Homo sapiens: one gene and its partners. The protein of the gene in region 1 purifies or fractionates together with the protein of each later gene. This does not show direct contact. Each region holds a gene or a part of one and is shown on either strand. Other genes may lie near its edges. The genes, in order: MTMR7, VPS33B, VIPAS39 and RALGAPA2.

Region 1 (7,541 bases):
AACTCAAGTAAGTGTTTTGGTGTTTTTGGTGTTTAACTTTTATTTAAAGATTTTGATGACTGAGAATTTTAGGTGGCCTTTCATAATTTTGAAGACTTTTTTCATTTAGTCACATACCTATACTGACAGATTAGTTTTATTTTCTTTTTCCTGGTGTCATTTCATAAATGGTTTAAATGTCATCAACTGACAGATAAATAGTTTCATTTTTTCCTTCAGTTTCTGCCTGATAGACAGCTTGACAGACTTGATGCATGAATATCGAAAGGGAATTTTCTGGAGTCAAAAAAGTGGTTTTTGCATTTAAAAGGAAAAGGTTAGATATATTTGGTGGCTATGCTACCATAATAAAAATTGCAAATTTAATTGGGAAAGCAAATATAAAAGCCAGAATTTATTCAGATTAAAACTGTATTGATTTATCCAAGGGTAAAAGTAGATAAATTGTGGACTTTAAAATAAGTGACAGTAAAAAACTTACAACAAAGTGATTTAGGCAGTATACATGAGAGAACATTTTTTAAATTTTCATAAAATGAAATGGTTTTAACTATGGTGTATACAACATTATCAGATTTAATTTGGGGAATGATCAGTTCAAATGAAATGGACTCATAAAGAAAATTAATTTTTGTAGTGGATACTAGTTTGTTTTCTCTAAGGAAGCTCAAGTGTGATTCCATGGAGATGGAGATGATTTAGAAGGAGCAGAGTGTATCCTTTAGGGTCACCTGTTTTCTTGTACCTGACTAGCCAATTCTAACAGTATCTGCTTGGGTCTGAATATGGCTTTTCCACTTACTAGCTATAGGACTTTGGGAAACCACTTATTCTCTCTATTCCTCAGTTTCTTCATCTGTAAATTAGACAGAGCTCACAGCAACTCAGTGAGGATTAAATGAGAGAAAACGTGGAACATTTAGAATAGTGTGTGACAAATTATAAATGTCCAATGACTATTTGGGGGAAAAAACTCCCCCCAAAAGAACAGCTTAACACACACACACACACACACACGAATCGAACACCTTGTCAAGGCCAGTACAGATGGTGGTGAAGTTGAGATTATTACAGTGTTCTCCCTCTATACCATGAAGTCACCAAGATGATACATTTACCTGCTATCGAACAGACACGTGGTTTTCAGGTAACAATTATTAGTTCCTTTCCAGCATTAATATAACATATCTACTGTGTGTAAGCACCAAAATAGGTCATTTATAGACTTATTTTCTTTATAACAGGATTCAAGAAAGAACATACTCATTATGGGCTCACCTGTGGAAGAATCGGGCCGACTACCTGAATCCTCTGTTTAGAGCTGATCACAGCCAGACTCAGGGAACCCTTCATCTCCCTACAACACCATGTAACTTCATGTACAAGTATGTAAATCCTTGGTAACTTTGTAGCCATGGTATGAACTTGGATTCTGGTACCGTTTAACATTCAGAGGTCAAAGTGTATGACACTGATCTTTGAGGCTTTTATTGGACACAAAAGACACCAGAGGGAGATGCTTGAATATCTGATCTGGTATTTTTGCCAGTGACTCCTCTGCCTCTTTATTCCTCCTAAATGTGGAATTTTCTTCAGGAGGTGATGTTTTATAATAATGATATCATAAAAAGGTTAAGTTCCAATTTATTTTTTTAAAAGCAAATGAAAGAGAATAATGCAAATGCCTTAAGTCAAATGTGGAATCACAAGTTTCAACAGTGATCATGACGTGTTAAGGTTGGAGCAAAAATAATTGTGGTTTTTGCCGTTATACAACAAAAAGGCAAAAACCGCAATTACTTTTGCACCAACGTAATAGGTTGCCTTTTTGTCTCCACTGAATTAAGTCCTACTGGAAGTACTTCCCTTGTGGAAATTACATTAAGATTGTATGTATTAGCCGAGGCGGGTGGATCACCCTAGGTCAGGAGTTCAAGACAAGCCTGGCCAACATGGGGAGACCCAGTCTCTACTGAAAATACAAAAATTAGCTGGGCATGGTGGTGAGCGCCTGTAATCCTAGCTACTCGGGAGGCTGAGACAGGAGAATCACTTGAACCAGGGAGGAGGAGGTTGCGGTGAGCCGAGATCGTGCCATTGCACTCCAGCCTGGGCAACAAGAGCAAAACTCCATCTCAAAAAAAAAAAAAAAAGATTGTATGTATGGGGAGAATGGGGAGAGCAGGGTGGCATCCTACAAGTTCTACTAGGTATGTGCTAGATACGTATGTTTTTTCCTTTGGCTTCCTTGTTAGGCTTGTATAATATGAAAAAACTCAAAGGTCAGCAACATCAAAAGACTCATGCAGAATAAACAGAAACCCCATCTCTTTCTTCCTACTCACTCCCGACACAGACTTGATGGCTTTTCTCCCTGTATAGATTTCGTTTCTCAAGGTTTTTTTTCTTAATTATTTCAATCTAATTATCTTCTCAGAATTTATAGCAGAATATTCTATCATACTAAACAAAAGCCTCCATAGTGCATGTAAGACAAGTTTTAAGAGCTGTTGAGATATGACCAGTTGGATTGCAACTAATTTATTATTAACAGCTAGTCAACACATATTTTATTGAGGATCAAACACTGTTCTGGGCACTGCAGATAAAACAATGACACCAAGTCCTTGCCCTCAAAGTACTTACTTATCTACATAAATAAAATAGTGGTTCTAAGGGTAACTCTGTGATAACACCATTTTTCTCATTTGCACTCCAGTTGCTTTTTTGTGTAGGATAAAAAGGGATTTATTGGTCAGGCGTGGTGGCTCCCGCCTATAATCCCAGCACTTTGGGAGGCTGAGGTGGGTGGATCACCTGAGGTCAGGAGTTCATGACCAACCTGACCAACATGGTGAAACCCTGTCTCTACTAAAAAAAATATAAAATTAGGCATGGTGGTGCATGCCTGTAATCCCAGGTACTTGGGAGGCTGAGGCAGGAGAATCGCTTGAACCCGGGAGGTGGAGGTTGCAAGGAGCCGATATCACACCACTGCACTTCGGTTTGGGTGACAAGAGCGAAACTCTGCCATTAAAAAAAAAAGCGGGGGGGGGGGGGTTATTGCCAATGCAAATGTCAACTTTTAGTGGTCGTGATACAAAAGATAAAAGCTGCAAGTTTAAGATTCCCTTTGTAGCTGAAAGATTCTAAATATACAATTTCAAAGTTCAAAACTAAGAGCCATTTTCTTAAAAGGTAATGGTTACATGTACTATTTTAATTTTAGAAAAATGTATTCTGTGCTAATTCATATATACAGGCAGACTTTTCATAAACTTATTCTCCCCAAAAGGCATTTACTGACCCAAGAAAAAAAACATCAACATGAAATTATTACCTTAAGTAGTGGCTTTTTTGAGGCTGAAATTTGCATTTGGTTATTATTAAGACTGTGGTATCATAGATACCTTAGAAGACTTGAGGATGTGAATTTTCAGACTGTGATAAGGTGGTATCACGACGCTTTGCCATCCTTTCCAGGTTTTGGAGTGGAATGTATAACCGCTTTGAAAAGGGGATGCAGCCCCGACAGTCAGTTACAGATTACCTAATGGCAGTGAAGGAAGAAACTCAGCAGCTAGAGGAAGAACTAGAGGCCCTGGAAGAAGTAAGACATACTTGCTTTGTTAATCTATTTTCTGTGCTTATTTCTTGAAGAGCAAGGCTTCATGAAAGCCTCTTAAGATTCAGTGCAATACAAATATTTCACATTTTTAGTCAGTAGAACACCTGAAACACAACCCCATCCAGGTCAGGACTCAGATAACCGAAGCCCAAACCTAGGCATTTAATGCATTTCACACATCTGGTTTGTGGCTCAGTTCCACAAATTTTTGGTTGTTCCTTATTTTAGGTCAACTTGTTTGGTTACTGTTATTTGAGAGTAGTAAAATTAATTTTTTTCTGGAAAGTGTGAAAAAGTAACAGAATAAAATCAAATATATGTACTTGTAAAACTCTTTCCCCACTTTTAGAAATTATGTTAACTATGATATTAATCTATAATTGGTAAAGGGGAGACTGACTGTAAAGTCTTATCTTTTGGCTTCTATGAACTTCCCTGTACTTGGACAGGGAGGTTATAATAAAATGCTTTTCCTAATTGGATAACTTTGTTTCCAATGGTACTAATGTAGTTTATGAACATCTTAGGATTCTATTAGTCTATTCTAGCAGTCTGGCTCTTTAAAACTGGCTCTTCCTTATTACAAAGTCAAAATTCCTTAGGCTGGCATTTGAGATTTTCTCTTTTCAGCTTTATTTTCCATGCTAATATTTAATGGTTTTTGCTGCTTGTATACAATTTAGACCTTCCTACCTTTGTGTTTGTCCTCTCACTGTCCCTACTCCTGTCAGGAATGCTTACTAGCTATCACCAGAATGTCCAAGTTTAAATCTTTCACAGTCCTGTTAAAATGTTCCTTCCTCCCTGAAACTTACTCTGTTCTTTTCCTTCTAACCTTACCACTTCATCCCTCTTCAAGAACTTTTGCCTTTTTGAAATTCTTACATTGCATGAACTCTGCCTCTCTCTGCTCCACTACTCCATGTTCCTTAAGGCTGGGTCTGTATTTATCTATCTCTTTTCCTCACACTGCCCAGCACAGTGCTTTTGCACATAACCTAAGTGAATGGTTTTGAATGAATACATAATACTTGATCTTATAACACCTCCTGTGTTAACATCAAAACATGAAATCTGGCGAAATGTATTCTGAACAACCCAGGTGTCCATAACATGATGAATGGGGAAACAAAATCTGGTATATCCATGTAATGGAATACTGTTCAGCCAGAAAAAGGAATGAAGTACTTGATACATGCTGTACCATGAATGAATTCTGAGAACATAAGCTAAGTGAAGGAAGCCAGATACAAAAATCCACATGTTGTATGATTCCATTCAATTTATATAAAACATCTAGACTAGGCAAATCCATAGAGATAGAAGTTGATCAGTAGTAGCCAGGGGCTGTGGGGAGATAGGAATGGGAAATGACTGCTAATGAGTATGGGGTTTTCTTTCGGCAGGGGAGGTGATGACAGTGTTTTATAATTAGTAGTGATCGTTGCACAACCTTGTGAATATAACTAAAAACCACTGAATTGTATACTTTAAAAGGGTGAGTTTCACGGTAAGTGAATTGTATCTCAGTATAAAAGTTAGATGATAAACACTTCATTCATGATTTCTAAAAAATGTTTTTTGAGTTCATGGGATGAGACTCATCATTTGAAACCATGTAGGTATAGAAAAGAGGGAGACTAGGGTTCACTGGGTGCTTCAACTGTGCTATATTGTTTATTATTATAGAAAACCTATGTCAAGGCAGGTATTATCCTTACATTAGAGATAAAGCAGGCCTCACAGATTTTGTCCAAGGTCGTGAAGTCCAGGTTTGAACTCACATCCCTCTGAGTCACATGTTCTTAACATTATACCCACGTGGGAGGTAACAAATGCTAAAGACATGCATATATAGAAAAAGATAAGTTATTTATGATTTTTCCCCTGAAATTGTTATTTCTTTCTTAGAGGCTGGAAAAAATTCAAAAGGTCCAGTTAAATTGCACTAAGGTGAAGAGTAAGCAAAGTGAGCCCAGCAAGCACTCAGGGTTTTCTACCTCAGACAACAGCATAGCCAACACTCCCCAGGATTACAGTGGGAATATGAAATCATTTCCATCCCGGAGCCCTTCACAAGGCGATGAAGATTCTGCTCTGATTCTAACCCAAGACAATCTGAAAAGTTCAGATCCAGATCTGTCAGCCAACAGTGACCAAGAGTCCGGGGTGGAGGATTTGAGCTGTCGGTCTCCAAGTGGTGGTGAGCATGCACCGAGTGAAGATAGTGGCAAGGACCGGGATTCTGATGAAGCCGTGTTTCTCACTGCCTGAAGTTTCCCTTTGGAGTTCCAAAGTAAAGGACACATAAGCAACACTTCCAAAAACAAGGGAACAAGGTGGTTTATTGTAAAAACAGGAAATGGTGCATGTCATTGAGAACTACTTTAATGCAGCTATGAAAAGGGAAAAAAGTGCCCAGTTCTTGATTTCTTAGATACTGAAGAGGACGTAGTCATTTCATTTATCAAATATAAGGAAAATTATTCACCATTTTGAAGCTCACCCTAGACTATGAAAATTATATTCACTGCAGAGCAATTACTTCTGTCATTACCTGAAGTGATCAGTATCTATCTTCCTTGTCATAGCATGCATCTCTCAAAAAGCCTCCACTCCTTTCCCTCACATCTGTGATCATCATGATTCTTTTAGTTCACTTCTAGATGCATATTTTGTGTTTTCTAAAGCATCTGACATTATCCTCCTTTCCGACCCTCTTATACATATTTCTAAAAACAGGCACATTGGTGAGATGCACCCTTTTTAGTTAATAGATGCATTCCTAAGGAGCTTTTAATTGCTTATCTTTCAGGCATAATCATCACTTTAACTTTTCCTTGGAGCATATATTTTGAATTGTGAGAATAATTTTGTTGCTTTTCTCTGAGATCTATAGTCTGTTTCTCCTCATTATTTAAAAATGCTAAACCTTGTATCTCACTTTTTCTCTAACACTGATTTAATAGCTAACGAGGTAGAAGCAACATTCATTCTCCTGGTCTTACATATGAATTTAAGTATCAGCTTTCTTGTAATAACCTTTTATTACTGTTCTAGAGACTACACTACCGACAGTGTGGGCCAGCCACCAGCCTGATCTCAAAGTATCACATTATAAAGTTAGTAGATAAAACATCTGTGAGTGAAAATCCAGTTTCAAGAACCAGAGAATTGGGTTGTCATGTCTGTTTAATGAAGGGAATAGGTTTTGTAATCTATCATTTTAGAAATTATGTAACTGGCTAATATGGTTTAATTAACCTTAGTAACATCTCATGACCACTGACTGCTGAAAGTTCTGAAAAGAATTTTTGTTTTGTTACACTGCACATTTAAGGGAGAGTCCCTCCCCTATCTTATGAGTTAAAAAAGACTTCACTAGGTGACCTAAATTAAACTTAGTGGGGAAAAGTGGCCATGTTTGGACATAAATAAATGGTATTCACACTGTATGGTTTTAATATATTAGTACATTCTAGAATGTAAAAGGATTAAACTTTACAATTTAGATCAATATTTTGAATATGTGAAAGGATTAATTTAAACTTTACAATTTACATCAATATTTTGAATATCTGATTTTTTTTAATGGGAGAATTATTACATTTCGCTGAAATGAGGACGAGGGCAAGAAAGCAACATTGCTGATCTCTCTAGTATGAAAGATTTGGAGGGAGTGTTGCAATATATATAAATGAAAACATTTAATTGTGTTCATCATATTTAAAAATATAGAATATATTAGAGAACTGTGATTTAAAAGTACTGTTAATGTAAAAAATAAAGCAAGTGTAATTAATTCTTTCAGAATATAAAATTTGGGCATTCTCTGCTGAGCAGTTCCCAAATTAAGTACAAGGAATGTTTATTCATTTTCTGCAATATACTATATGTAATAGGGAATACCTTG
Region 2 (7,541 bases), on another chromosome or scaffold:
TAGCTGGGCATAGTGGCCCATGCTTGTAATCCCAGCTACTCAAGAGGCTGAGGCAGGAGAATTGCTTGAACCCAGGAGGTGGAGGTTGCGGTGAGCCGAGATCGCGTCATTGCACTCCAGCCTGGGCAACAAAAGCGATACTCCATCTCAAAAAAAAAAAAATTATATTACACATTCCATGTATCTCTTAATCTATGTTTGCTCACACCACCACCAGCCTAAATCAGGCCTCTTTCATTGCCACATGCTTGCGCTCTGTGGATGGTTTTATTAACTCCCTAAGTGGACTCCCTGCCTCCTGTTTCTCTGGTCTTCAGATTCCTCTAACATTTCCAGCTGATTGGAATGCTTCAATACACAAAAGCTTTATTTTTCCCTGTTAATTAGAGGATCAAGGCCACACTCCCCTAAGCTGGCATTTGGAGCCCTTCCTGCTCAATTCTAACCAACTATTTTGGTCTATTTTTCACCATTCACCTACCTCAAGATTTCCTACCCTCTGTTGACCATTTTGAGTTTGGGAAACTAAAAAATAAATAAACATTTAAAAAGGCCAAACGTGGTGGCTCACACCTATAATCCCAACAGTTTGGGAGGCTGAGGCAGGTGGATCACCTGAGGAGGTCAGGGGTTCGAGAACACCCTGGCCAACATGGCGAAATTCCATGTCTACTAAAAATACAAAAATTAGCCAGGTGTGGTGGCATGCGCCTATAATCCCAGCTACTCGGGAGGCTGAGACAGGAGAATTGCTTGACCCTGGGAGGCAGAGGTTGCAGTGAGCTGAGGTCGTGCCACTCCAGCCTGGGCGACAGAGTAAGACTCTATCTTTAAAAAAAAAAAAAAAAAAAAAAAAACAGGCCAGGAGCAGTGGCTCACACCTGTAATCCCAGCACTTTGGGAGGCCGAGGCAGGTGGATCATGAGGTCAGGAGTTCAAGACCAGCCTGGCCAAGATGGTGAAACACCGTCTCTACTAAAAATACAAAAATTAGCCAGGTGTGGTGGCAGGCACCTGTAATCTCAGCTACTCGGGAGGCTGAGGCAGAGAATTGCTTGAATCCGGGAGGCGGAGGTTGCAGTGAGCCGAGATCACGCCACTGCACTCCAGCCTGGGTGTCAGAGGGAGACTTCATCTCAAAAAACAAACAAACAAAACAAAACAACAAATAAGATTTAAAAAAAAAGATTTCCTGCTCTCTATACTGTTGACTTTTTGGGCTGGATCATTCTTTGTGGTGGGGGCTGGCCTGTGCATTGTTGGATGTCTAGCAGCACCCCTGGCCTCTACCCACAAGATGCCAGTAAAACCCCTACCCTGAGTCAGATAACCAAAAATGTGTCTGGACATTGCCAAATGTCCCTCGGAGGGCAAAATCGTCCCCTTACTACACAGCCTATGCTCTCTTTCTGATCTTTGCTGGACTGTCCTCTTCATCCATCCATGTCAACACCCTACTCATTTGTGAAGGCCTGGGTGAGAGGAAACTCCCAGTGACTTTCCCCTCCCTGTCACTAACTGTGACCTCTCCTTCCTCTGAACAGACATTGAGATCGGTGTCAGGAGTGGTGGTGCAGGAATCGTATGACAGGGATTGTGGGGTGGGGGAGTGGAAGGGTGATGGGGTGAGGACTGTCCTGGGTTTGCTAAGTTTTCTGCAGTGAACGTGTGCTATTTTATTTTGTACTTAGGAGAAAAATGCAAGGTGGGGTTCTGTTGTGTTTGGCTTTGTTCAGCAGGAGACCAGGGGTGGTTAGGAGCCAGAGTGGAGGAGGCAGCAGAGAAGGGGAGTGAGGTGCAGACCAAGGTCACAGGTGAGCAGAAGGGTTGAGTGACAAGGAGTTAACCTGAGAAAGAAGGTGGGATGTCTTCTTCCCACTGGTACAGAAAACGAGAAGGCAAAATAGGTAAATATACAGAGAAGTGTCAACTGTGGATACAGATAATAAATAAGGTGACGGGCTAGACGATACTTAGTGCCCTCCCACCTCAGAGACTGTTTCTGTTAGATGGGTGGCTGGGCCACTTCTCAGCTGCGGAAGCTCATGTGACCTGTGAGTGACCCAACATATTGTGTCTCCTTCAGCTTCCTGGAAAAAAGGATTTATTCATTGAGGCAGATCTCATGAGCCCTTTGGATCGAATTGCCAATGTCTCCATCCTGAAGGTACTGTCCCTTTCCCCTGGGGGCCATGCCCCTCTTTAAGCAGTTTTTCTTTTGATGAACAATACAAACTACTGAAGAGTGACTACTCTTGTAGGGCAAATATAGGGTAGCTTAATTGGGTAGAAAAGGGAGATTGATGCTGTTCGTATTTTTTTGTTTTGTGTTTTTTTGCGGCGGGAGACGGAGTCTCTCTCTGTTGCCCAGGCTGGAATACAGTGTAGTGACACAATCACAGCTCACTGCAGCCTTGACCTCCTGGACTCAGGTGATCCTCCTGCCTCAGCTTCCCAAGTAGCTGGGACCACAGGCATGTGCCACCACACCTGGTTAATTTTTAAATTTAAATTTATTATTTATTTTTCTGAGTCTGTTTACTACAGAATATATATATATATATATATATATATATATATATATATATATATATATATATATATTTAATTTTGTAGAGATGGAGTCTTGTTATGTTACCCAGGCTGATCTCAAACTCCTGGGTTCAAGTGATCCTCCTACCTTGGCCTCCCAACGTGCTGGGATTACAGGCATGAGCCACCACACCTGGCCCATACTGTTTTTATATTGTTTTATTTTAGGTTTTTCTATTGACAGTTTGAGGAAAATTCAGTGGGATGGTCGTCAGGGGAGCATAATTAGCATAATTAGGAAGCCCTCAATAATTAGCATAATTAGGAAGCCCTCAAGAAGTCCCCTATCTTCGTGTCACACTTTGTGCTTTTCAGGCACTCTTATGTCCATTGTCTTATTGGATTCTCTCTGTAGCAACACGAAGTAGACAAGCTATACAAGGTGGAGAACAAGCCAGCCCTCAGCTCCAATGAACAGTGAGTGTCTGGGAGAGTCTGTCCCTACTCCAAGCTGGAAGAGGTCCCTAGGGGCACGTCTGCCTTTCATCTGTCCTTGGCTGAGATATATGGTTCACCTCCCTGAACTTTACAATTTCATGGCTAGGTTAATCTTCTGTTGTTTTGTTTTGTTTTCTGTAGTTTCCTTTCTGTGGTTTCTTGTCCTCTTCCCTCTCTAATTTATAATACAGTCTATAACCAGATTGACTAATCTTTCAAAATTATTTTCATCGTGCTTTTCTCAAGAACCTGCAAGGCAGCTGGGTGCGGCGGCTCATGCCTGTAATCCCAGCACTTTGGGAGGCCGAGGCGGGCGGATCTTCTGAGGTCAGGAGATAGAGACCAGCCTAGCTATCATGGTGAAACCCCATCTCTACTAAAAATACGAAAATTAGCCAGGTGTGGTGGCGTGTGCCTGTAATCCCAGCTACTCAGGAGGCTGAGCCAGGCGAATCGCTTGAACCCGGGAGGCGATGAGTTGCAGTGAGCCAAGATCGCGCCACTGCAGTCCAGCCTGGGTGACAGAGCAAGACTCCATCTCAAAAAAAAAAAAAAAAAAAAAAAAAGAAGAATCTGCAAGGCCTCTTATTACTTGCTGAAGATTGTCCACATTATTTGTCATAGACTTCAAGGCTGTCTGCAGCGTGGCCTCCCACGTTACCTTTCCAGCCTTGTCTCGTGTGTCCCCTTCAAGCCTCTGTTGACATGTGCTTCCACCTGCCTCTCAGCCTGTGCCTTCACCCTTTTCATCACTCCATTCGCTCTGCCTGAAATTCTCTCCTGTCCTCACTGCTCCTATAAAGAATGTCCATCCTTCAGAGCCCGGCCACCTCCTCCATGAAGCTCTCTGTTGCCCTTCCAGTCTAGAGTGATTTTCTCCTCTGGATTTCCATGGCATTTTGTATTTGTCCTGTTCGCTCGGCATGTAGTCATGTACAGCTGTTGTCTTGATTTTAAAGTATTTCTGAAACTTAATTAATGTACATGCTTTCTTAGAAGAAAAAATTCTCCTGGATACATGGAGAATATATCCATGTACCCCAGTTTGAAAAAAAATATTTTCTATTACTTTCTTATATTTAAATTTTTTTAATTAAATTTATTTATTTTCAGAGACAGGGTCTCACTCTGTTGCACAGGCTGGAGTGCAGTGGTGCAATCATAGCTCACTGCAGCCTTGAGCTCCTGGCTCAAGGGATCCTCCTACCTCAGTCTCCTGAGTAACTGGGATTACAAGTGTGCAGCACTGCATCCGCCTATAGTTTTATTTTATTTTATTTTTTTGAGTAGGAGTCTAACTCTGTCACCCAGGTTGGAGTGCAGTGGCGGGATCTGCCTCCCAGGTTCAAGCAATTCTTCTTAGCCTCCCAAGTAGCTGTGATTACAGGCGCCTGCCACCTTGCCCAGCTAATTTTTGTATTTTTAGTAGAGATGGAGTTTCTCTATGTTGGCCAGGCTGGTCTTGAACTCTTGACCTCAGGTGATCCGCACTCCTTGGCCTCCCAAAATGCTGGGATTATAGGCATGCACCACCTCGCCAGGCCTTATAGTTCTTTTATTTTACTATTATTATTTATTATTATTTTATTTTATTTTATTTTTTTTGAGACGGAGTTTAGCTCTTGTCATCCAGGCTGGAGAGCAATGGCGCGATCTGGGCTCACTGTAACCTCCACCTCCTGGGTTCAAGCGATTCTCCTGCCTCAGCCTCCTGCGTAGCTGGGATTACAGACATGCGCCACCATGCCCAGCCAATTTTTGTATTTTTAGTAGAGACGGGGTTTCACCATGTTGGCTGGGCTGGTCTCAAACTCCTGACCTCAGGTGATCCACCCGCCTCTGCCTCCCAAAGTGCTGGGATTACAGGTGTGAGCCACCATGCCCAGCCAATGTTTGTATTTTTAGTAGAGACGGGGTTTCACCATGTTGGCTGGGCTGGTCTCAAACTCCTGACCTCAGGTGATCCACGCGCCTCTGCCTCCCAAAGTGCTGGGATTACAGCACTATTATTATTTTTAATAGAGATGAGGTCTCACTGTGTTGCTGAGGCTAGTTTCGAACTCCTGAGCTCAAGCAATCTTCTCACCTTGGCTTCCCGGAGTGTTAAGATTACAGGTGTGAGCCACCATGCCCAGCCTTTATTTTTAACTGACAGATAATAATTGTATATTTTTATGGGGTATTCTTATATTGTTTTTCAGCACTGATTGTTAATATACTCCATATCTGCATCTTTTTTTGCCCACTGGATTGTAAATTATTTGAGAACAGGAACTTTTGGGTCCACCATAGGGCCAGTAATGTACCCAGCTCATCACATTATACCCATTGTGTTGAGAGGTATCTTCTGTGGTTGGTATATGGTGGACCAAGAGAATAGCATAGCTTTGGCTAGGATGAGACCTGTAGGGCAAATGGCAAAAGAGTTGGTATTGTTTCAGTTTCTTCTAAGTTGCTATCCAACTTGATAATTCTTCTTCACTGTTTTTTTTTCTTTCTCTCTCATAGATTGTGCTTCTTGGTCAGACCCCGCATCAAGAATATGCGATACATTGCCAGTGAGTGTGCCATGGTACTATGTGTAACTGTGGGAAAGGGCGGGCAAAATCTAAGGGCCTTGGCCATAAGGACCCTCTAATAAGAAAATAATTGTTTGAGTTGGCCGTAGCACTTGTGGAGGATGTCTGCTTCCCCGCTTCTTTTTTTTTTTTTTTTTTTTTTTGAGACGGAGTTTCACTCTTGTTGCCCAGTCTGGAGTGCAATGGCACGATCTCGGCTCACTGCAACCTCCGCCTCCTGGGTTCAAGCGATTCTCTTGCCTTAGCCTCCCAAGTAGCTGGGATTACAGGTGCCCACCACCAGATCGGGCTAATTTTTTGTGTTTTTAGTAGAGACAGAGTTTCACCATGTTGGCCAGGCTGGTCGCAAACTCCTGACCTCAGGTGATCCACCCGCCTCAGCCTCCCAAGTGCTGGGATTACAGGCGTGAACCACTGTGCCCGGCAGCTTCCCTGTTTCTAGCATAACAGATGGCCCATGACTTGCTGGGCTGCATTCCTTCTCTCTGTAGGTCTTGTCAATGCTGACAAATTGGCTGGCCGAACTCGCAAATACAAAGTGATCTTCAGCCCTCAAAAGGTGAGTTTGGATCCTGGAGGAAGTGGGATAAGGTAGAACAGGACTGAGGACCGGGCAGGGGTAAGGGGCCAACAGCACTACCTCCCTGTCTCCGTTCGTTTTCTGTTGCTGTAACAGAATACCTGAGACTAGGTAATTTATAATGAACAGAAATTTATTTAGCTCATGGTCTGGGGAGGTTGTGAAATCCAAGACTGTGGGGCTGGCATCTGGCGAGGGTCATCCCATGGCAGAAGGGTGGAAGGTGGAAGCCAGCACATGAGACCAAGAGACACCCAGGGGCTGGACTCGCCTTATAGCAACCCACTCCTGCCATAAGGACATTAATCCATTCATGAGGACTCCTCCCTCATAACCCAATCACCTGTTATTAGGCTGCACCTCCCAACACTGTTGCACTGCAGATTCAGTTTCCAACAGATGAACTTTTGGGAGACACATTCAAACCATAGCACTCCCTCAAAGCAAATTATGTGTGATTGAACCTAATACCTGTCACTAACGCATCCTCAATTCATTAACATATCCTCATTTGTTTAGCAGAGGGTCTGTCATCATACTGTCCCAAATAAAGTATTGTGGAATTGTGCGAAGAGGCCTCTACGTAGATTTTTTTAAATGAAAAGCTTCACGCTTGCGAGGTAGAACCTGCTCTGTATCCCTAACACAAACTCTAGTATAGTAATGGTGCACAATGTTACGGCTTTCCAGTGACTTTCTCCCTGTATCCCTTTAAGAATAAATACGATAAATCATCACCCTCCCTCTTCCCATCCGCTATGCTTATAAGGATGTGGCTGGGCTGCCCCTGGGTTACTAGAACCATGCCACCATATATTGGAAAAGCCTTTTCTTGCACAGGAAAGGAACCTTAGAGACTGTTTTACTCCACCCCAACTTTGAGCAGCTGAGGGAACTGAAGCCCATGCTCACACAGTGAGTTAGCACAGCCAGAGTAGAGCTCTTCCATCTTTAACTCAATAATTGCAGTACATATTTGGAGGTCCATCATAGTCTGTCCATTTCTTGATTCCATTGAGCTCCCCTCTCACCTCCACATCAGCTACGTGCATCCTCAATCCCAGTGATTGGGAGGAATGACGTTCCAGGCCTTTACCTTGCCAACCATAGGCCTCTAAAGCTACAGCAAGTAGTGCATGCATACTTACAGAAGGTAGAAGCTAGACTAGGAAGAACAGGGATTTATTCCTTTTCAATCTTTCTAAGAAAATTCTAGAGAAAATAGAGGCAGTAACTAAGGACTGAAGCCTCTGAAACCAGGCTGTCTGGATAAAATCCACCCTTGAGGCCTTATTACCTGTGTGGTCTTGGGTTAGGTACTGAGCTGCTCCGTGTCTCGGTTTTCTCATCTG
Region 3 (7,541 bases), on another chromosome or scaffold:
TCTCTACTAAAAATACAAAAATTAGCTGGGCGTGGTGGCAGGTGCCTGTAATCCCAGCTACTTGGGAGGCTGAGGCAGGAGAATCATCTGAACCTGGGAGGTGGAGGTTGCAGTGAGCTGAGAGCGCCACTGCACTCCAGCCTGGGCGACAGAGCGAGACACCATCTCACAAACAAACAAACTCTACAAAATTTTAGATTATCTAATGAATCCAGAGAAAGAAAGGGACTCACCCAGCATCACATAACTATTTAGTGGTAGAGCTGGAAAAAGTCAGGTCTTGTGTCTCCCAGCACCGTGCTGTTTCTGTTAACCACACAGCCCTGCTTTGCCATAGCACTGTTACTCTATAACCTGACATGTGCCGACAGGCTGCTAAATGCAGTCACTGAGGAAGACTTGTAATGATCCTAAGATCCTGAGCAATTATTTCATCATTCTACACAAAACCACCAGGAGCGGGAGAGAAGGCACCAAGGAAGAAATACCTTTATTAGGAGTCTAGGCATGTCAGAAAAACCCAGTTCAGTCACAGAAAAGGAGGCAAATATTGGTACAGAGCAAGAATCCAAGTGTGAAAATAAAACCTCCATCTAAATATCCTAACAGAAATGCTGCTGAATTTAGCCCAGGTGAAACTTCTGAAAGCTCCTGGTGAAATGAGATTTTTGCATAAAGAGAGAGCTCTCCAGCACTGCTGCATCTGAGCTTCTTATAAAGTGACGGGTCTTGGCCAGCAGTAGAGGAAGAGATAAAGGGGATGTCTCATCACCCAAGCAAGGTCGTCTGTGTTCAAGTGAGAGAAGAACCTTAGGGTTTTGGACAGAGTAAACTGGGGCAGCAGAGGGAAAATGGCTGAGGAAACACAACGTCTAGGCCATGTGTGGCATAATGTGGAGGGGTCTGTGCAGTCTGGTGTGAGTGCATCTCCAGGAGGTCTTGGGAAACACTGGCATTCCTTCCTGAGGCCATTTTGGTTCTGTTCTGACTTCATTCAGAGCAGAACTGCCAATGTCCAGCGCCAAGTCCTGGATCATAATTAGCTGAGTGGAATGCAGTAGCCACCCTATGACTCCCATACCTCTTCCTTTCTGGAGCAGTCACTTTTCTCAGACCAAGTGAGATCTTACCCAGTAGGGGCCCAATCTAGAAATCACTCCCACCTTCATATGAGCACCAGGTGGAGAGAATCATTCTCATGACTCAAAGCTTTAGATCTCGATCCTCAGATGATGTTCCTTGGACAGAAGATCAGTCTGAAGTTATCTGTGTCAAGAGTAGCTGGCACTGCCCATGGGTAATGGGCCCAAGCGATGTGATGCCGCAGCTCTCCCAAAGAAGAGCTCTCTCTGCTTTCACAGGCAGGAGAGGAGGAAATGAGGCAGGCTTCAAGGTAGTCAATGCCACTTAATTCTTCCATCGAATTTGCTGTGGAAAGAGGAAACAATGAAAGTGTGTGATCAGTTTTCACTTATCCCTACAGCAAGGCAGAGAAAATGCAACAAAACAAGGCTCAGCTAGATAATGTAAGGAAAAGAAAAAGTAGAATCAGATCAGGAGGTGGGGGATGTTGAGAAATTTTTTAAAATATATGGGGGAGTTCATTTATTCAAAGATGCATTAAACACCTATTTTGTATTTTACAAGCCTAATTTTGGTCATTTGACCCTAAGGTAGGTTCCAAAATACCTAACAGGGAACTAACTTTCATATTAACAAAGAGCTCAGTAATTTCCTGCTGTGAGAGACGAACCAGCTGTGCTCCCCAGGTAGCTAACATCTATTTCACCCACTTCTTATTTTCAACTGGTAGGTCCCATCCATCCCCACGAGACCATACAGTTTGGATATTCTGAATCTGTAACATGTTTTCATACTTTCAATATTTAGTTTCTCCTACATGCTAGGTTTAACTATTATCACAGCATTACAGTTAAGTCTTAGCTTGAGGTCCCCAGATTACCCCCCTATCATACCGCATCTCAGGAGTAATTTCTGCTATTCAAAGCAGTGCTTTTGACATTGTGGCCAGAGGAGAGCCTTACATCCATGTGGCTTAGCCAACTGCAATCCTTCCAGACCTTGGGAACATACATTTGGTACTATTTTGTGAACTGTCTGTCTCCTGAGCCTGCTGGAGGGGTGAACTGTAGCTGCTCACCGAGCTGCTGAGAAGAGCATCAATCTTCTCCTCCTCTGCTGATCCTTTATCTACCTTACTCCTGTATGCTAGCAACTGTTGACGATCCTTCAGGTCCCGGTAGGTCTGTGCATCAAAACAAACAATACAAACCTCCAATCAGCCTCTGTACAGGGTTCTTTTTGCCCAGGATGGTCTCAAACTCCTGGGCTCAAGCAATCCTCTCTCCTTAGGCTCCTGAGTAGCTGGAACTACTGGTGTGTGCTACTGTGTACACATGAGGGCTTATTTCTTTTTGTCATTATCACTTTGACCCAACGCTCAAGGAGAGGCTAAGAGGCTATAGTGGGATAACAGTGGGGTCCAGTGCCCACAGAACTCCATGTTGGAGAGAAGACTACACAGCTTGTATAGCTTGATTTAGTTCTATGAATTCTCCAAGTACGACAAGTTTATAAAAACACAGAGAAAGCAGTCAGAGGGCTGGGAAAATAATACAGGAGTGCTGGTCTCCAAACAAACTCTTGCCAGATTATTCTGTCCATTCAGTCAAACCTGGTGGGAGCACCTCAGGATCTTGGACAGAGAATATTATAATCCCCACCCTGCTTCGCCACTGAGGATCTAACGGAGGACTCCCATTTCTTGGGGACTCACATCAATGACGACATCATGGCACTTGAACTTAGTGGCTAAGTTCAACTTCGTGTCCACATCTTCCACCAGATTGACATACTCCTGTAATATCTGTGGGAAGAGGTACTTCCGATTAATGATTCAAACACCCATAAGGCACAGAGCTCTACAAGGTAGAAAAGAAAGTCCTGAAGAAGGCAAAAGAGTTCAATAGCTAATGTTTCCAGTTTCCATCATCAACCACAGGACTAGTTCTGCAATGGGAATGAGGTAACGCTACACAGTACTTCCATGCTGCCTCAGTAAGCAGGAAAGAGCACACTTCTCCTGATCCTCGAGCCAGATACACATGCCAGCAATGAGTGCTCTAGCTGTGATCCAGTGCTCTGCTCATTTCTCCCTGATGTCTTTTCTCCACGAGTTCTCCTTTTCTATCATTTGAACAGTACATCAGTATTCCACTTGGGCTAACACAGTAGATGCTACTCAGAGAGGACAGTTTGGAATTGTTTCTAAAGGGGAGAAAGGGAGAGAATTTCACTCCCTGGCCTTTTCTGTCTTGAGGCCTATTGCAGCCATTGTGCTGCCTTTAAGGGAAAACAAGAGCAGATCGGGTCTCCCATCACTGACCAGTAAGAGGCTTAAAGTTAGGTCTCCAAGAATATCCTGTACCCAACTCTCTTCAGGACCCATTACCTGCACAGGGGCATTGTTCTTGTGCAAAATTTCGACAACCCGATGGAAGCCAATGGGTGCTCTCTTCTTGGTATAGCCCAGCCAGTTCTGAAAGAGGAAGATGGGGTAGCGGCAGGTAGGCCAGGCACACTCAACACATTCTAGGTTAGTCTATGTTTTACGATCAGACCAGAATAATGTGGTGGGTGAGTGGGGGTGCTGAGGGATACAGAAATAATGAGAAATGAATTTTTCAGAAAAATCAAGGGATTTGAGAGAGTGGAAATGAATCAGGTTTGAAATAACTTCTTAGATCTATAGAAACGAATGCAGGGAAAAGTCTTGAAATACTACTAAATGGGATAAGTAACTTACTTAATATTTGTAGTATGAACTTATCAATGTAGAAAATAATTCCATCTTCCATATCTTTGTAAGTACAGATGTTTATTTGCAAATTCATGAGGGAAGGTCTGGAAAGCTACCCATTAAACTTTTAACAGTGTTTGCCTTGAGAAAGGGGGTGAGATAGGAGTAGGTAGAAAATGAAAAAGGAACTTCACTCTTTCTATACTTTAATACAGTGTTTGATTTTGACAACAGACACATATTGCTTTGTTAATATAACTAATTAAATAATTAACAAATAGGAAAAACAGAAAATTTTTAAACCCATAATGGAAAAACAGATATTTAAAACGTAAACTAATTCATATTGAACCGCCAAAGATCCCACATAGCCAAAGCAATCAATGTTAAAGAAAAACAAAATGGAGGCCAGGTGCGGTGGCTCATGTCTGTAATCCCAGCACTTTTGGAGGCCGAGGTGGGCGGATCACTTGAGGCCAGGAGTTCGAGACCAGCCTGGCCAACATGGTGAAACCCCATCTTTACTAAAAATACAAAAATTAGCCGGGCAGGGTGGCGCATGCCTTTAATCCCAGCTACTCGGGAGGTTGAGGCAGGAGATTCAGTGGAACCCTGGAGGCAGAGGTTGCAGTGAGCTGAGATTGCACCACTGCACTCCAGCCTGGGTGACAGAGCAAGACTCTGTCTCAAAAAAGAAAAAAAAAAAAAAAGGGGGGGTAGGGGTAGGAGGCAACATGCTTCATGATTTCAAATTATATTACAAAGTTACATATATTAATCAAAACAGTACGGGGCTGGCATAAAAACAAACACATAGACCAGTGGAATAGAATAGAGAGCCTAGAAATAAACCCAAGCATATATGGTCAGCTAATTTTCAACAAAAGCACCAAGAGGACCCAATGGGGAAAGGATAGTCTCTTCAATGAGTGGTGCTGGGAAAACTGGATTTCCACATGCAAAAGAATGAAATTAGACCTTTATCTTACACCATACACAAAAATCAACTCAAAATGGATAATATACCTAAGCATAAGACCTGAAGCCATAAAACTCATAGAAGAAAACATGGGAAAAAGCTCCTTGACATTGGCCTTGGCAATGATTTTTTTGGATATCACACCAAAGGCTCAGGCTACAAAAGCAAAAATAAATGGGATTACATCAAACTAAAAAGCTGCGCATGGCAAAGGAAACAATCAAAATGAAAGGCAGCCTATGGATTAGAATATTTGTAAACCACATATCTGATAAGGGATTAGTATCTAAAACATATAAAGAACTCACACAATGCAATAGCAGAAACAAAAATTGCCAGATTTAAAAATGGGCAAAAGACTTGAATGGACATTTCTCCAAAGAAGACATGGAAATGGCCAAGAAGTACATGAAAAGGTGATCAGTATCACTAAACATCAGGGAAATGCAAATCAAAACTATAATAAGATATCACCTCACACCTGTTAAGATGACTGTTATCAAAAAGACAAATGATGTGTTAGCAAGGGTGTGGGGAAAGGGAACTCTTGTACCCTGTCGGTGGGAATGTAGATTGGTGTAGCCAATGTGGAAAACAGGCTGCAGTGAGCTACGGTCATGCCACTGCACTTCAGCCTGGGTGACAGAGTGAGACCCTCTCTCAAAAAAGTAAAAATAAAAATAAAAATAGAACTATCATATGACCCAGTAATCAATCTTTCTTTTGGGTATATGCCCAAAATAAATGAAATCATCACCTCATAAAGATACTTGCATTTCCACATTCATTGTAACACTATTCATGAGATGTTAACTATTCATGAAATGTAACTATTATAAATTATTGCTGAGAATTTAAATATCTGTAACTTACAAAAATAATAAACAAATAAATAATTCCCTCTCCCTAAAAAATAGCCAAGATAAGGAAACAACTTAAGTGTCCATTGACAAACAAATGGATACAGAAACTATGGAACTATGGTATATATATACATACATGCTGGAATATTAGCTTTAGAGATCTAATTACAAGATGAGGACTGTAGTTAATAGTACTGTACTGTAATCAGGAGTTTTGCTAAATGAGTAGATTTTAGCTGTTTTTGCCACAAAAAAATAATTTGAGATGATAGATATGTTAATTTGCTTCACTGTAGTAACCATTTTACTCTCTACATGTATCTCATAACATCTTATCGTATAACTTAAGTATATACAATATATAATAACATTTATCTTAAAAAAAGAAGAAAGATAACAAGTGTTGGCAAGGGTATAGAGAAAAGGGACCCTGGTACACTGTTGTCGGTGGGAATGTAAATTAGTGCAGCCATCATGAAAAACAGTATAGGCGTTCCTCAAAAATGTTTAAACAGAACTACTATATGATCCAGCAATCCCACTATTGCATATAAATCCAAAGGAAATGCAATCAGCATCTCACAGAGACATCTACACTCCCATGTTTATTGTGGCATTATTCACAAGAGCCAAGATATGGAAACAACCTAAGTGTCCATTGATGGATGAGTGGATAAAGAAATTGTGGTACATATATACAATGGAATATATTCAGAACTTAAAAAATAAGGAGATCCTGACATGTGACAGCATGGATGAACCTGGAGGACATTATGCTAAGTGAAATAAGCCAGACAGAAAGGAAAATAACCTCATGATCTCACTCATGTAGGATCTAAAAAAGTCAAACACATAGAAAGTAGTTTCCAGAGGGGGAAAAAAGTAGGTCAAAGGATACAAAGTTGTAGTTATGCAGGATGAATAAATCTAGAAATCTAATGTACAGCATGAGGAATACAGTTAATAATAGTGTAGTGTATACTGGAAATTTGCTAAGAGAGTGAATTTTAGGGGTTCTTACCACACTCACAAAAAATGGCTAACTGTGAGATGATGGGTTAATTGGCATGACTGTATAATCATTTCACTATGTATATGTAGATCAAAACATTATGTTGTACCTTAAATATATACAATAAAAATTAATTTAAAAAAAGGTAAATCAGTAAAGACATGACAACCAAACTCAATCCAAGGTCTTTGATTGGATCCTGATAGAAAAAAATACAGAAGCAAACCAAAAGTAGCTATAAATAACTAATTTAAATATGGACCATGATTAAATATGTATTATTATATTAATGTTAAATTTTTTTAGTGATAATTATATTGTGCTTCTTTTTTTTTGAGACAGGGTTTTGCTCTTGTTGCCCAGGCTGGAGTGCAATGGTGCAATCTTGGCTCACTGCAACCTCCGCCTCCTGGATTCAAGCAATTCTCTCGCCTCAGCCTCCTGAGTAGCTGGGATTACAGGTGCACACCACCACACCCAGCTAATTTTTGTATTTTCAGTAGAGACGGGGTTTCACCATGTTGGCCAGGATGGTCTCAAACTCCTGACCTCAGGTGATCCACCCGCCTCGGCCTCCCAAAGTGCTGGGATTATAGGCGTGAGCCACCGCGCCCAGCCCAATATTGTGCTTACGTAGTATTAAAGGAGAGGTGTTAAGATGTCTACAACTTACTTTCAAATGATTCAGAAAAGAAAAACACATAGGTATAGAAAAAGAGAAAGCATACATGGCAAAATTGTTAATAAATTAGTGATGTGGATAAAGACTATTATACTATTATAGTATATATTTGATTATTATATGAACTATAAAATTCATTCTTTCAACTTTTCTTTAGGTTTGAAATTTTGGAAAATAAAAAGTTG
Region 4 (7,483 bases), on another chromosome or scaffold:
TCCACCTCATCCTCCATCCCACTTAGGTAGGAATTGATGTTAGCTTTTTATTTATCCTTCCAGTGTTTCTTTTTGAAAAAAAAATTTTTAATATTCTGTTCCTTTTATATTTAACAACGTATCTGGAAAATTATGTCAAGTCAGTACACGCGAAATTTTCCCATTATTTTTAAACAGCTGCATAGTACTCCATAGTGCTACACTGTGTGGATGAACTGGATTAAATTAGCCACTTATAGATGTATGTGTATATAAGTACCTTGTTAGACAATCACAGGGTTCTCTCTGGTATCTGGTCATACTCGTTTTCTAGAGTGGCTGCAACAGATTACCACAAATTGCGTGGCTTAAAACAACAGAAATTTATTTTCTCACGGTTCTGGAATCCTGAAGTCTGAAATCAAGGTGTTGGGCTTCCTCTGGAAGACTCCAAGGGAGAATCCTTTCTTGCCTCTTCCAGTTTCTCTTGGCTATAAGGGTCTTTTCGTTTGTGGCTCCATAACCTCAATCTCTACCTTGGTCTTCATGTGCCCTTCTCCTTTGTTTCTATGTTTTCACTTCTTTTGTTTCTTACAAGCACATTTGTCATTGGATTTAGGGTCTACCCAGATAACTGAGGATCTTATTATATTTGCAAAGATCCTTCTGCCAAATAAAGTCTCAGTCACAGTTTTCAGGGATTAGGACATAGACATATCTTTTTGGGGGGAAGGGTGGGCACTGTTCAACCCACTACATTGGCTATTATAAATAGTGGTGAAAGGAATAAACTTCCATGCATGGTTTTATATTTATTTCTCCATAGAGTTATCCTACCAATTACATATATTGTTAGTTTTATTTTTTCCATTTATTTTTTATTTTCAGGCTTGTCTTTTTCTGTTTCAATTTTTGAATATGGAAAACATTTACATGGTTCAAAAATGAAAAAAATATAAAAAGATATACTCAGAGAGGACACTGAGTCCTTTCCACCTCATCCTCTATCCCACTTAGGTAGGCATTAATGTTAAGGTTTTTTTTTAAATCCTTCCAGTGTTATATATTAGAATATCTGCAGGGTAGATTCCTAGAAGTCAAAATTCTGGCTGGGTGTGGTGGTTCACACCTGTAATCCCAGCATTCTGGGAGGCTGAGGCCCGTGGATCACTTGAGGTCAGGCGTTCAAGAGCAGCCTGGCCAACATGGTGAAACTCTGTCTCTACTAAAAATACAAAAATTAGCCAGGCATGGTGGCACATGCCTGTAATTCCAGCTACTCAGGAGGCTGAGGCAGGAGAATCGCTTGAACCTGATAGGCAGAAGTTGCAGTGAGCTGAAATCACACCACTGCACTCCAGCCTGGGGGACAGAGCAAGACTGTCAAAAAAAAAAAAAAACAACAAAACATGGGAGGCCAAAGCCCATGGATCACCTGAGGTCAGATGTTCAAGACCAGCCTGGCCAACATGACAAAACCCCCTCTCCACTAAAAATACAAAAAAATTAGCCAGTCGTGGTTGCGCACGCCTGTAATCCCGGCTAATCGGGAGGCTGAGGCAGGAGAATCGTTTGGACCTGGCGAGATAGCTCCACTGCACTCCAGCCTGGGTGACAGAGCCAGACTTCATCTCAAAAAAAAAAAAAAAAAAAAGAAAAAGAAAAAAGAAAAAAAGAAATTGAAATTCTGGGTCAAAAGGCAAATATTTATTTTTGCCAAATTTCCTTCCATAAGAGTTGTAGCATCTAACATTTCTACCAGCTATGTTTTCTATAGCTCTGCCACCAGACTAGAGTGTGTTATCACACCTTGTCTCTGTAGAGGTTTTTTGTTTGCTTGTTTTTTCTAATTCAAATGATATTTCAGAGTAGTTTTAATTTGCATTGCAAGTTTTAAACTTTTGATCTCATTATTCTTATTTGCTGATTACTGTAGGACATTTATTCAACAACACTTAATGTCTGCATAACACTCGGCACTCTATAACTCCAGGGATAAAGAATTCAGTGCAAAGCAAGTGAAGCCCTCAAAGAGTTCACAGCCCAGCAGGAACGAGTTTAGAAAGAACAACAGAAAATAAGAAGAGCCATATGGAATATGCAAGTGGGTGAAAAAGTACCAACATAATAATACTATATGTTTCTTCCTTTTTAAGAGAAGAATTGGAGTTCTACATTTTCATTACTGGGTAAAGGCTAGATATGATGGGTGCGATGAATTTATATGCACAGATGCCTGTTTCTGGCATTACCAAGCTTGATAGTATCACATGTTCACTGTACACTGTCATTTATTCCCACATGTATCTAATCGCTCAGCCTCCTTAACTGGATTGGAAGCATTGGAGGTCAGGAGGATGCACCTTATACATCTTTTATCTCCAGGGTTTAGAATCATGCCTTACACATTGCAGGTGCTCAATAAATGTTTGATGATGATGGCAGCTTGCTTTGCAATTAAAAAAATGGAGTTTCCTAAGACAAGTATATTCTATTTTTTCAATCAGTGTAAGGAAAAGTATCTTCTCCTAAAGGAATTGGACAGTGAACATTGTGGTTTACTATGTGTAATCAGGTACAAGCTCAATTGCTGTAACGAAGACTCTCAAAATGCCTTGACTTAAGATAAGACATTATTTTGCTCTCTTGTTACACTTTTAGAAGTTTGTGGTCCTGATCTGTTATCATCTGGGGACTCAGGCTGGTAGGGCCGCTCTGCCATCATCTTGAGCATGGGGCTTTCATCTCCGGGTCTGAGAGTGATCCATGTTATTGGGTTTATCAGTAGTCTGTTCTTTTTTATTGCTGAGTAATATTCCTTTGTATGAATGTGTCTATACAAAGGAATATTACACAAATCTAAAAATAGAGAGACGCTCTAAAACTGTGAGTTTATTTATTTATTTTTTCCTTTTCGCCTGCCTGGTTGAAATATGTAGGACTACTTTAGCTTTTTATTGTATTTCATTTAATAAACTTTTATTGAGTGACCCTATGGGCCAAATACTGTGCTGAGGGATGGGGATACAAAGGCGTGTAAATCCTTGTCTCTTCCCTCAAGTTACAGTTCAGCTAGAGGAGAAAAAGACAGTTGTGTTGTCCCAATTTGGATGGAAACCACGTGATTCTACCTTAAGTACTTGCTGAAAAAGCTGAAAGGATGTCAAAACTTGCAGGATTCGGATGCCACTATACAATCCTACAGTGTAAGAAATCTCCTGACCATCTTTCAGCTCAAAGTCTTGCCCCAGGGAATAAGCGCCTGGCTTTAAAAAGTATACAGGCCTGAGTCAGATCCCTCAGGTTCTATTTCTGGTTCTGCTACTGGATCGCCATGTGGCTTGCACAACAGAGAACGCACCCTTCCTACAAAGAGGCAAGATCCCAAGGAGCCCTCTGAGCGAGCGACCTCCATACCCCAAGTGAGGTTGGGTTCCAGGAACCTAGGGGCCGGCTGAACTCCTCACCGGGGCACGCTCTTCCCTAGTGCCAAAGCAACTCATTTTAGTGTGAAATTAGAGCTGCGATTTCGGCACGGTCAGAGGGGCTTCGACTCGCTCCCTTGTGTGAATCCAGAAGCTAAACCTAAAAATAGTTTGCATTTGAAAAGCCTTGACACTTTTCTTACTGAGATTTTTGGGCGTGTGTGGTTCACGTTGCACTAGAGGAAAATGGGGTGGGCGCGCAGGAGGGAGAGTGAAACCACGGGCGATCTAGGCTGCCGGGGCAGGGGACGGACAGAGGCCGCCCTGCGCTTCTGCGACCCTGGAAAAGAGGTCGCAGCGCGTCGCCTGCTGGAGAACTTCATTTCCCAGGAGCACTTGCGGCCCGCGGCAGGGCGGGGCGACGTGCCCAATGCCGGCCCACTGACTCCCATCGTGCCGAAGACCGCCAGCCTGATTGGAGGACTGTCTCGCGGTGCATCTCGGGACTTGTAGTACAACGTGTGCGTGAGAGAAGCTCCTTTGTGATTCGAGGCGCCTTCTCGGCCCTCTGAGCGCGTCCCCGCTAGGTTTTGGCGCGGACGGGCTAGTGTCCCGCCAGGAGAGTTCGGCCTGTGTGCGCGTGCGTAGCGCCCAAGGGGCCGGCCGGCACCTCCCGCGGGGCGGGGCCTTCGGTTCCCCGTCGACACCGCCTTCCTGCCCCGCCCCTCGCCGTGACCGGCCCGCCCCTCCTTCCTGGAGACACAGCTGAGGCGGCGGCGGCGGCGGCGGCGGCGGCAGCAGCGGGGCTGGGGGCGGCGAGTGGCCCGCGCGACACGCGCCGGCCTCGACCCTATGCTTTGATTCGCGTGGCGCAGGCGCCTACTGCCCCGCCGGCGGGGCCCGGGCTTCCTGCCGCGGGATGTTCTCCCGAAGGAGCCACGGGGATGTGAAGAAGTCCACCCAGAAGGTGCTGGACCCGAAGAAGGACGTGCTGACCCGCCTGAAGCACCTGCGGGCGCTGCTGGGTGAGGCGCGCGCCGGGCGCGGGGGTCGGGGCGCCGGGTTAGGGGCACCTGCCGGGAGGGCGCTCCTCTGTGCAGGGGTCGGTGGCTGGGAGGCTGGGGAGGGGGATGGGTGGGCGTCCGACCCCCTTCCCTGGATCTGGGCTTGGACCCCCGGGGCTTTGTTTCCAGAAAGCCGCAGCCTGGCCCTCGGGCACTGCTCCCGTCGCCCTCGAGTTAAACTTAGCCCAGATTCTCGCTGGGCGCCTGCGCTCCCGGAGAACCTGGAGGCCGGGCACAGAGGTACCTGTCCCCTGTCCTCCCAGCAAGTGAACTGGATCCCAAGTGGTCATCACGTGCACACATTGAACTGTCACCTCCCCCTTTCATTTTTAAAATTTTATTTTTGAGTCTGAGACCCTAAGTAGACCGAGACCCCAAGTGAACCCAGCACAGACCTAATTGGGCTCTCATCTCTGTCATCCCCCTTTTAAATTTTATTTTTACTTTTGAGTGTGAGACCCCCATATAGACCGAGATTCCAGGCGATCCCAGCACAGATTTGTCATCTGTCTTCCCATGCTGCTTTTTAAATTTAATTTTTATTTTGGGTCTGGCTGCTTCAGTTTCTTTGTGTCCTTGGTGTGAAGGGGCCTTCTCTTCCTGCTTGGAGAGAGGGGTGGTTTTCTTGGGTTCAGGGAGGCTGCTTCTCCTTTATTACCGGCATGACAGTGATGCTGTCTGCCACCTTCTGGTTTATGGCCTGCCAGGTGGAGGTTCTGAGGAGCTCAGGTGGGCTTGGAGTTGACCTGTGATGAAGCTCGCCCCTGTGGGTGTGAGGTGTCCACAAGGCTTCCTGTCACCTGCTGCATGTGATCTGTAGCTGGTTCGCCTAGGCTATGTTTTGTTTTCTGTATTTTTTTACATCCTAAGTCTTAACTTTTCTTTGGGATGAAAACACCTTTGCTATCTATAGACACACTTACCTGTGTATTTGGTGGCGAAGGAAAGAACACCTTATGTTTCTTCCAGGTGTCTTTTAGTCCCAAAATTCACAAAAATCGCCTAGTGCTAATGTGTCTGTCACTTGAAAGAATATTGCATAAAATGATTTAACGTGTGAAGATTTTAAATAAAGATCTTGTTCATGAGATCAGAAGTTGCTGATTATTTCTATTTATATTCTACCTCTGAGGGGGAGAAGAACCCAAGCCAAACCAAACCACACCTGATTTTGCCAAGTGAAGTTATTCACAATCTCACATACCTTGAGGTTACACTGACTTGTTCAGTTTGAAATGAAATGTAAATTAGTTGCTGTTACAGGGATTCGTTTTCAAGACTTTTGAGAGTGAAGTGTGGAGAGTGAAGTGTGGCGTTCTTGGTAAACTGAATTTTCTACTTCCTGTAGATACCATGCACGCACAGGTTGCACAATACACAGGTTGCATTGTGTGGAGTTCCTGGTAGTGACTGATTAACACCTACTGCAGGGACATTTTTGATAAAGGAGAGTTGAGCTGTGTTTTAAAGCGTTTGATACTTTGAGCCTTTTTCTGTGCTTTAGCGTTTAAATTTTTGTTCTGTCCAGGTCTGCAAGATTAAGTTGGCTACATTTTATAAAGGCAGAATCAAGTAAACCTAGATCAGGTTATTTCTTAGCACACAGTACATTGTTCCCATTCTGAGAAAGTTGATTCTTTTCAAGTTTGTAAAATTGTAGTTTCACTCTAAGGTGTAGGTCTTATTTTAGGGAACTTTCTTTTATCATTTCACTGAACTCATCATGACCTCAGTTTTGTAACATGGAGAGGTTCTTTTATATTTCCTTAGGTGTATGTTTTTTGTTGATATACTTACTAGTGGAGTGGCCCAGTTTGCTTTGTTTATTACTGTGATCTTTGTAGGGACTAGATTTTTGTAAAATGTGTCTGAGGAATTCTAGTCATAATATTTAATGTAAACTTTCACTTGCTCCTGTGATTTATTAAAGACTTAAAAAGTAGTACGTAATGCACTAGTTCCTACCTAATCACATATTCTATTTCATTGCTACTCGAAAAAAAGTCTACTTAGAAAACAAAGGCCTCTTGAACTGAAAGTTAGGAATTAAGCCAAGATTAAGGAAACTATTTGAAGGAAATGAATAGTAATTACTATTGTATTTTTATGTGTGTATTTATATAACACTTTTGCTTTTCATATATTTTATCTTCAAGTGATAATAAAGTTTTTTTTTAAGTATGCAAAGATTATGCCACTTACTTGGGTATTTGCAGCCTGTCCCTGCCGCCTGCAGCTTCATGACTTGAGCTAGTTACGTAGCCTGTCTCTGAACCTCGGTTTCTTTGCTCTGTAAAATGGGTATGGTAATGTTTGCTTTTTAAAGGATTATTGTGAGTATGATGAATAAATGACTTCAGCTTGAAGTAGGCCTTTAACAGTTTCTTTCCCATTACATATCTCCCACCATTAATAGGATAGGACCAGTATTTTGATAGGTAATTTTTCTCCGTCTTTCTTATTTTTGATAATAGTGATGAATTTGTTCTCTTTTCCTAAAAAGTAGTCTGTATTTAAAACAACTGGGTGAGAAACATAAAATTAGCTGTGGAAGTAGAGTATTTCTTAGTATCATGGTAATAACTCCAATTTGGATGTAGATACTTTCACCTGGCTATAGACTGGTCTGGTATGATTAACTTTATTTTACAGAGGGGTAAGCTGAGGCACAGGCAGGCTTGACACGTATCAAGCCATGTAGCAGACGGTTTACTTATGTTAGAGGAAGAACGAAGAGCTGTTAGGTCCTGTGACTTCCAGTTCTTCCTACACTGTTGACAAAACAAAAACCAAAAAACCCTGTGTATTACCATATTGCTCCAGCAAAGATTCCATGTCTTTTTTTTAACAGGATCTTTGCTCTGTTGTCCACGTTGGAGTACAGTAGTTTGACCTTGCCTCAACTGCTGCAGCCTTGGCCTCCCTGGCTCGAGTAATCTCCCACCTCAGCCCCTGGAGTAGCTGGGGCTACAGGCATGTACCACCACACTAGGCTCATTTTTGTATTTTTTTTTT

Evidence for each region.
Region 2: the proteins of MTMR7 (region 1) and VPS33B purify together in Homo sapiens (affinity purification with mass spectrometry; 2 studies listed by BioGRID and IntAct, with this or other methods). This does not show direct contact.
Region 3: the proteins of MTMR7 (region 1) and VIPAS39 purify together in Homo sapiens (affinity purification with mass spectrometry; 2 studies listed by BioGRID and IntAct, with this or other methods). This does not show direct contact.
Region 4: the proteins of MTMR7 (region 1) and RALGAPA2 purify together in Homo sapiens (affinity purification with mass spectrometry; 2 studies listed by BioGRID and IntAct, with this or other methods). This does not show direct contact.

What each region holds. Positions count from the first base shown.
Region 1 is NC_000008.11:17,298,223-17,305,763, reverse strand, and holds part of MTMR7 (phosphatidylinositol-3-phosphate phosphatase MTMR7), read left to right. Parts: coding exon 1-7; coding exon of another isoform or gene 8-11; exon of another isoform or gene 12-16; intron 17-366; exon of another isoform or gene 367-1,244; coding exon 1,245-1,385; exon of another isoform or gene 1,386-3,483; coding exon 3,484-3,610; intron 3,611-5,274; exon of another isoform or gene 5,275-5,539; coding exon 5,540-5,902; 3' UTR 5,903-7,541. UniProt on the Homo sapiens protein: Lipid phosphatase that specifically dephosphorylates the D-3 position of phosphatidylinositol 3-phosphate (PtdIns(3)P) and inositol 1,3-bisphosphate (Ins(1,3)P2).
Region 2 is NC_000015.10:91,012,431-91,019,971, reverse strand, and holds part of VPS33B (vacuolar protein sorting-associated protein 33B), read left to right. Parts: intron 1-2,086; coding exon 2,087-2,167; intron 2,168-2,907; exon of another isoform or gene 2,908-2,947; coding exon 2,948-3,009; intron 3,010-5,538; coding exon 5,539-5,588; intron 5,589-6,100; coding exon 6,101-6,168; intron 6,169-6,301; exon of another isoform or gene 6,302-7,538; intron 7,539-7,541. UniProt on the Homo sapiens protein: May play a role in vesicle-mediated protein trafficking to lysosomal compartments and in membrane docking/fusion reactions of late endosomes/lysosomes.
Region 3 is NC_000014.9:77,426,209-77,433,749, forward strand, and holds the end of VIPAS39 (spermatogenesis-defective protein 39 homolog), read right to left. Parts: intron 3,962-7,541; coding exon of another isoform or gene 3,911-3,961; exon of another isoform or gene 3,882-3,910; intron 3,560-3,881; coding exon 3,473-3,559; intron 2,888-3,472; coding exon 2,798-2,887; intron 2,267-2,797; coding exon 2,162-2,266; intron 1,429-2,161; coding exon 1,408-1,428; 3' UTR 467-1,407; downstream 1-466.
Region 4 is NC_000020.11:20,709,321-20,716,803, reverse strand, and holds the start of RALGAPA2 (ral GTPase-activating protein subunit alpha-2), read left to right. Parts: upstream 1-4,159; 5' UTR 4,160-4,323; coding exon 4,324-4,429; intron 4,430-7,483.